Homo sapiens: one gene and its partner. The protein of the gene in region 2 purifies or fractionates together with the protein of the main gene of each other region. This does not show direct contact. Each region holds a gene or a part of one and is shown on either strand. Other genes may lie near its edges.

Region 1 (4,237 bases), on a different chromosome or scaffold from region 2:
GAAACCAGTGTCCAAAACCAGATGCCACCCTGGGGAGGGGGCTTTGGGAGTTCCTGGGAGGCCATAACACCGTCTGGAAGGCTCCTCTCTCCCACATATTCACAAAGTTGCATGATAAGCCAGGCCCCTGCTGGTCTTGCAGCATCCACCTATGATGCAGAGTAAACAGTGCCACACGTCAAGCTGTCCCCAACCTTGCCCTCGGTTCCACTACCAAAAGAGGGAACACTGGGCTTGCCCCAGCAAGGTGTTATTTATGTCAGGCTAGGGCCACTGTGGCTCCCAGCTCTTACTGCTTTCTAGGTGCCCTTACAGACTTCCCCACTGCCCCCTGCATATGCCAGAGTGTGAACATCCCCTCCCTCTCCACAGCCCCCACAGTGGGGTTCGGGTGGGCAGGGAGGTGGTTTCATCCCTCTACATACAGCCCTTGGAGACCTACCTAGGCAATTTGTCACTCAGGCTTCAAGCTGCCAGCCGAGGAGGGGAGCTGAGAAGACTCTATAATGAGATCTTTGCACTGTAATTAAGTGCCAGGCTTTGTTTTACACCTATCTTTCCCGCCTTGCCCGATCCCACCGCCAAGCTCCTCCAGGCAGTGAGTGGGGAGTGTCAGCTGCTCTGTGATTACACCCCAAGTGGCAGGTGGCAGGGAGCTCCTCCGCCTGCAGTCTGCGCCCCACCCCCAGGCTTCCCCCACCACCAGTCTTAACTCAAGACAGTGCTATTTCTGTCCTTGAACTGGGTTTCACCCCAGAAAGCCACTCCACCGCTTTCTCATAAGGCTACCTCCTTTTAACCCTGTGGTTGCACGGCCTCTGGGGTGTCCATTTCTTTCTTTTGACACGTCCCTTTTCCTGAAAGTTTCAGCAAACCCCATAGGCAGAGGGAGTTAGAAAAAGGAAAAGAGAAGTTAGGGCAGGAGGAGCACTGTTCTTATAGGACAGGAAGGGTCTGTCTTCTCTCTTGGGTCCTCCACACAAAATCGGAGCTTCCAAACACCCCAGCTCCCAAACATATGCAGCAGATTCTGCTGACAGGAATGTGTCACTGTGATCTTCACATTTTAGCCTGAAGTTTAGCCTACCTGAAGAAGCACCGGAGTGGGAGTGGGAGAACATGGGATGGTGCTTCTCTTTGGCCTGGCTGTGCTTTTGGACACTTCAGGTCTTCGGCCTGGGTTTCCTCCTCCGTACGATGAGGAGAGGATGGGAGGGGGCAATGCTGGCATGTGTGATCTCGATAGACACTGTGGAAGTCTGCAGAGACCGGAGCATAACCTCTGCCTCCTCTCCCCGGGCCTAGCCTCTCACAGCCCTCAGAGAAAACCCTGAGCTGCGGCGTGGCCGAGACGGGGGCGTGGCCTGGCAGGTGGGCGGGCCCTTCCGTGGGCGGGGCCGCGAGGTTTTCAGGAGCCCGAGCGAGGGCGCCGCTTTTGCGTCCGGGAGGAGCCAACCGTGGCGCAGGCGGCGCGGGGAGGCGTCCCAGAGGTGAGCGCCCTGCAGCGGCAGGGGATGGGCCGGGGGCCCTAAGTCGTAGGCAGCGCGGGGCGGGGACGCGGCTGCCTGCGGAGGTCGGACTCCTCTCCGCCCTCCTCCCGGGCTGTCCGGGTCTATTTTCCAGTCTATGTCCAACTCGCGCCGCCTCACTAGGCGGCGCTCTCTGCCCCGCGGCACCCGCGAGACGTGGGGTCCCTCGGCCCAGGGACGGGGTGAGCGTGTCATGTGGGTGCCCTGTGCCCGGCAGGTTGGAGACGAAGAGACCTCGGCACAGACGAAGTCACTCACATCCTCGCTTTGAAACAGAGCGGGTCCTTCTTGTGCTGTCTCGCTGTCACTCTCGCCCCCACCCTGTGGAAGAGGCAGGTGGCTTGTCCCCAGTCACTTTCTTCCTTGGAAAAGGGAGACAGAGGGCCATCTCCAGCAGGGCCATGGAAATCCCAGAAAGTCACTGAGCTGCTCAACAAAAGGCCCTAAACACCCCACCCCACAGCACCAGGCAGTGCACACTGGCCAAGACTCCGTGGTAAATATTGCTGGCCTTTATGTTGAGAGGGGGAAAAAAAAGCCTGCCTGTGAAGATCATTGCCCAGTGGCCATGCTCCTGTGAAAACACAATTGGAAAGCCATTTCCTAAGGGGCGAGGGTGGGTCTGGGACCATGCTGTGGCTTGGGTGATTGGTGGTTGCAGGAGTGAGGGTGCTGCCCTGGGAAGGCGCTGAGGCCCTGTTGGGTGGGAATCGACGGCTGCGGCTTTCTCCCGGAGGAGGGAGAGCGGTGTTGTTACCTAGTGTTGGGAACACATCCGTCCAGCACCGTGAACTGCAAACAAGCAGAGTAACCCTAGTGTCCTTCAGATACTGTTGCTGAGCAGTCACCTAGTCAATGAGATGATCTGTTTGGACGGCAAGTGCATCTGTAATGCCGCCCTCTTGCTCAGTGCCTGGAAGAGGCATTGGTGACTCCCCGCTAATGCTAGGGGTAGCTACCGTGCAGGAGCAGTCAGGCTCTTGCAGGGCCAATGTGGTTTCATCAATTTTCTCCTGCATTTACCCAGCCCCTCCGAATTCTGAGAAGTGCGTCCAAGATCTCTTGGACTCCTTGACTCAGTTCACCCTTGTTCTTGTGGGCAGAAAACAATTCCCAGTGTGCCATGCACAGCCAGTCAGAAGGGAAGCCCTGGAGCAGGGCCCTGGGAGAAGTTCTGTGGGGCTGGATGCTAATTATTCAGTTACTGGATTGTGGGGAAATTCCAGGGGAGGTCCCAGAGGAGAGACCGTGCTAAAGCTAATTACTAAGCAGTACAAAAATAATCTCTCTCTCTCTCTTTCTCTCTCTCTCTCTCTCTCTCTCTCTCTCTCTCTATATATATATATATATATATATATATATATATATATATGTAATTTTTTTTTTGAGACAGTCTCACTCTGCCGCCCAGGCTGGACTGCAGTGACACAATCTCGGCTGACTGCAACCACTGCCTCCAGGGTTCAAGCGATTCTCTTGCCTCAGCCTCCCAAGTAGCTGGGATTACAGGTACCCACCACTACGCCTGTCTAATTTTTGTATTTTTAGTAGAAATGGGGTTTCACCATGTTGGTCGGGCTGATCTCAAACTCCTGACCTCAGGTGATCCGCCTGTCTTGGCCTCCCACAGTGCTGGCATTACAGGTGTGAGCCACTGTGCTGGGCCAAAAATAATCTAAATTTCAACAATCAGCATGACCATGCCTGTGCGTATGACCCTAATTATCAGTCTGACTGATTCTTCCTTCCAAAATGATGGCAGAGGATCACCTCTTTGGATATTTACAGCTCTGAGCAAAGCAAAAAGCATGTAGGTGCCATTGTCTGAATGCAAAACCAGCCATGCCAGGTTTTCGGTGTTGTTTCTGAGGAGGGAGCGCCTCTCTGGAGGACGGTGTTTCCAGAACAGTGCCTCCGTTGTTCATTCCCGTGCATCAGGAAGTTTGGCTCTGCTGAGTGTTGAAAGCAAAACTCTCCTGTTTATTTGTCTCTGTATACTAACAGACTTAAACAGCAGACAGCACTGGAATGTCCAGTTACTGCATCCAGATGTGTTTGTTTCACTCTTAACATTGTGGAAAAGAATGCAGAAGGCAGATCCAAAGCTTCAATCAGATTTCTGAAGCTTAAGTGATTCCCAGCCTTGGTCCCTTAATGTGAGAGCAACAGCGTATAGTGTCTTCCGCTCTCTGGGACAAACCCAAGTTTGAGGCATAGTCCCTGCTGTCCAAAAGCTCCTAGGTCTAAGTAGGAAGACAAAACCAGCACCTGTGAAACAATTAGAGCGCAATTAAGTGCGAAAGTATGTGGCAGCATCTGCTAGCTCAAAGAAGACAGCTAGTGCAGACTGACTGGGAAAGGAAGAGAGAGCTTCACAGAGCCAGCTGGTGTTCAGCTTGACTTAAGAATGACCATCAAGGGCTTGGCCAGGCCTAGGAAAGGAAGCATGAGGATATATGAAGCTCAGAATAATGAAAGGCACTTGCTGCCCAGAGCCAATTCAAATTCCTGCCTTCCGGGAATTCTGGCTGTGGGTCCTGCCACTCTCTTCCTCACCCAGCCATGATGCCCTTCTTATAGCATTCTAACCATGCCTTTTTTTTTTTTTTTGAGACAGAGTCTCACTCTGTCACCTAGGCTGGAGTGCATTTGTGTGATCTTGGCTCACTGCAACCTCTGCCTCCTGGGTTTAAGTAATTCTCCTGCCT
Region 2 (2,819 bases):
AATTTTTAAAATAATAGCTAAAGATTCATCTAGGTATAATTCAAATAAACATAATTCAAGAGCAGAAATATCTACACAGACTTCATTATTTTCACATCAACTTTTAATTTCTATCCTATACTATGAAATATTAATAGAACACTTGGACTGCATATACTCACCCATCTTTGAGGGGTTTTCTTCGTGATACGAGTACTACCAAGTCTTTGGGTTTGTCATCATTCAGTATAGGACAGGTGATGTGATACAGCTGATCATCTTCACTCACCCAGTCTATGACTTCACAGGACCTGTGTATATAGAACAGTGAAAAGCAGGTATACTTTCTACCTGCTCAGGCATTCACTTCCCTTATTTGCTTACATAATCTCATTATTTGTATCCATATTTGCCCCTTCAGCTCACCTAATCATCTCCCTAAAAGCCAGCATTATTGCTCAAGTCTGCCTTTAGAAGAGCTCTTTGAGGGTAGGCACAGTGGCTCATGCCTGCAATCCTAACACCTTGGGAGTCTGAGGTGGGAGGATCACTTGAGGCCAGGAGTTCAGGACTAACCTGGGCAAAATCTTGCAAAACCCTATCTTTATAAAAATTTTTTAAAAAATTATTTGAGTGTGGTGGTGCATGCCTGTACTCCCAGCTACTCGAGAGGTTGAGGTGGGAATATCACTTGAGCCTGAGAGGTTGAGGCTGCAGTGATCCATGACTGTGCCACTGCAGTCCAGCTTAGGTGACACAGTGAGATCTTAAAAAAAAAAAAAAAGCCACAACAAACAAACAAAAAACGCAAGAGCTCTTTGATCAGAAGGAATAATTCTGCAAGTGATAGAGGATGGTGGCCATCTGACTTCAAGTTCATAATTCTCAATACTTCAGTGAAAGGCATTGAGCTGTTTTACACAAAATTATTTTTCTCCAGGATCAAGTAAAAACATTGTGAGGACTGGTAAATCATATAGTCAGTCCAAGAAGGATTGTTTATATAGATAAAGAAATGTGGTATATTGGAAACCGCACTAGCTTTGGAGTCACACAACTTTCTTTTGACTCCCAGATTGCCACTTACTCGCTACATAAGTTGCGTTAGGCAAGTCATTTGATTTTTTCATCTGTAAAATTTAGATAATGATACGTGGGGTTATTGCAAGGATTCAGTGAAAACACCTGGCATAGTACCTGAATCATAGTACATGTACAAGAAAAGTTAGTTGGATTAGAATTCATTCATTCACTCCCCAATTTGTTCAACTTCAATTTGGCTGGAATGTCAAGTGACATAGAGATAGTGGGAGAAACATTTTTAAAGCATAACACCAAAGTTTAGGCATTGTTATTCCTAAAAGCTTGTACTGGTAGAGTATCTACTAAATTGATGCAAGAAAATTGAGAAGTGTTCCTCTTCTCTCAGAATGATTTATTATGATAGCATTAACCACGATGTATCATTCTGATACAGGAGGTGGGCAGGGAAATGTTGGGTAGGGAAGGGCAGGGTCCCTGGTGAGGGCTCCACCCTCGGGCCTGTGCCCACAGACCTAAATGAGGACAGGCATTTCTGTTTTCACACCCCAAAAGTTACCTTTTGGCCCACTGCACCCCACATCCTGTGCCCATAAAAAACCCGAGACCCTAGCGGGCTGGATGTTGAGAGGAACAGAGGAGCACACTGCCAGACACCAGCAGACGCTGGCAGACCATCGATGGTGGAAAGACATGGAATTCAGTCAGGGGTGGTCAGAGGAGAGTCTGGTGGCTGGGCAGCCTGACTCCAGAAGAAGACCACCTTCCCACTCCATCCTCCTTCTGGCTCCCCATCCATCTTGCTAAAAGCAACTTCCACCACTCAATAAACCTTGCACCCATCCTCCAAGGCCACGCGTGAGCCGTTTTTTCCAGTACACTAACGCAAGAATCCAGGATACAGAAAGCCCTCTGTTCTTGCAATAAGGCAGAGGGTCTGATCGAGCTGATTAACACAGGCTGCCTGCAGACAGCAAAACTGAAAGAGCGCATCGTAACACACACCCACCGGGGCTTCAGAAGCCATAAACAGTCAACCCTAGATGCTGCCGTGGGGTCAGAGCTCAAAAACACTCCCCACGACTTAAGCGACTTAAGCGTCTGCATGATCCCTCTAGGGGTTTGAGCAGCACGGAAGAAACAAGCCACACCCTTGTCGCAGGCCCTATGAGGAGGATAAGGGAACTCCTCCCATTTCAACTCTAGCATCTGTGCCAATGTAACACGTGACCTCAGAGATGTTTCACTTTAGTGGTATTAAATCATATGTTACATGGTATTTCTAAATCTCTATCACAGTGAGTTTTAGAAAATTTGAAGATGAGCCTCTATCTTGTCAAGATTAGGAAACGCTTAACACATAGGAAGCCCATCTCATCAACTCTTCCGTGTCAACAAGGTGGGCCATGAAGCCCTGCGGGGTGCTATAGCCAAGGTGGCTGGGCCCCAGTGCAGCTGGTCTCTGTCAGTGCAGTTGGCAGGGTGCACAGCTCTGTACTGTGTTCCAGGAAAGGGCTGGGGAGTGGAGGAGATTGGATTAGGGATGCAGGAGACAGGGAGTGGCAGGAGTGGGAGATGTAGGCTAATAGGAGCAGGGACATCATCAGGAGGGGGAGCAGGAAGGCATGCCTTTCACCTCGGGGCTCACACAGCTTGCTCTCTTAGCTTCTCACCAGGGAGGGTTGCTTCACAGAAAAGTAAGGAACTGCCAATGAAATATTGAGAGTATGCAGGACAATTGGATAATCACTTCCTCAAGAGCAATGAGGTTGCATATTAAAGTAGAAGAGTGTAGAATT

Evidence for each region.
Region 1: the proteins of ACOT12 (region 2) and TLR5 purify together in Homo sapiens (affinity purification with mass spectrometry; one large-scale study listed by BioGRID and IntAct). This does not show direct contact.

What each region holds. Positions count from the first base shown.
Region 1 is NC_000001.11:223,140,449-223,144,685, reverse strand, and holds the start of TLR5 (toll-like receptor 5 precursor), read left to right. Parts: upstream 1-1,437; 5' UTR 1,438-1,490; exon of another isoform or gene 1,491-2,025; intron 2,026-2,922; 5' UTR 2,923-3,038; intron 3,039-4,237. UniProt on the Homo sapiens protein: Pattern recognition receptor (PRR) located on the cell surface that participates in the activation of innate immunity and inflammatory response.
Region 2 is NC_000005.10:81,332,316-81,335,134, forward strand, and holds part of ACOT12 (acetyl-coenzyme A thioesterase), read right to left. Parts: intron 291-2,819; coding exon 162-290; intron 1-161. UniProt on the Homo sapiens protein: Catalyzes the hydrolysis of acyl-CoAs into free fatty acids and coenzyme A (CoASH), regulating their respective intracellular levels. Preferentially hydrolyzes acetyl-CoA.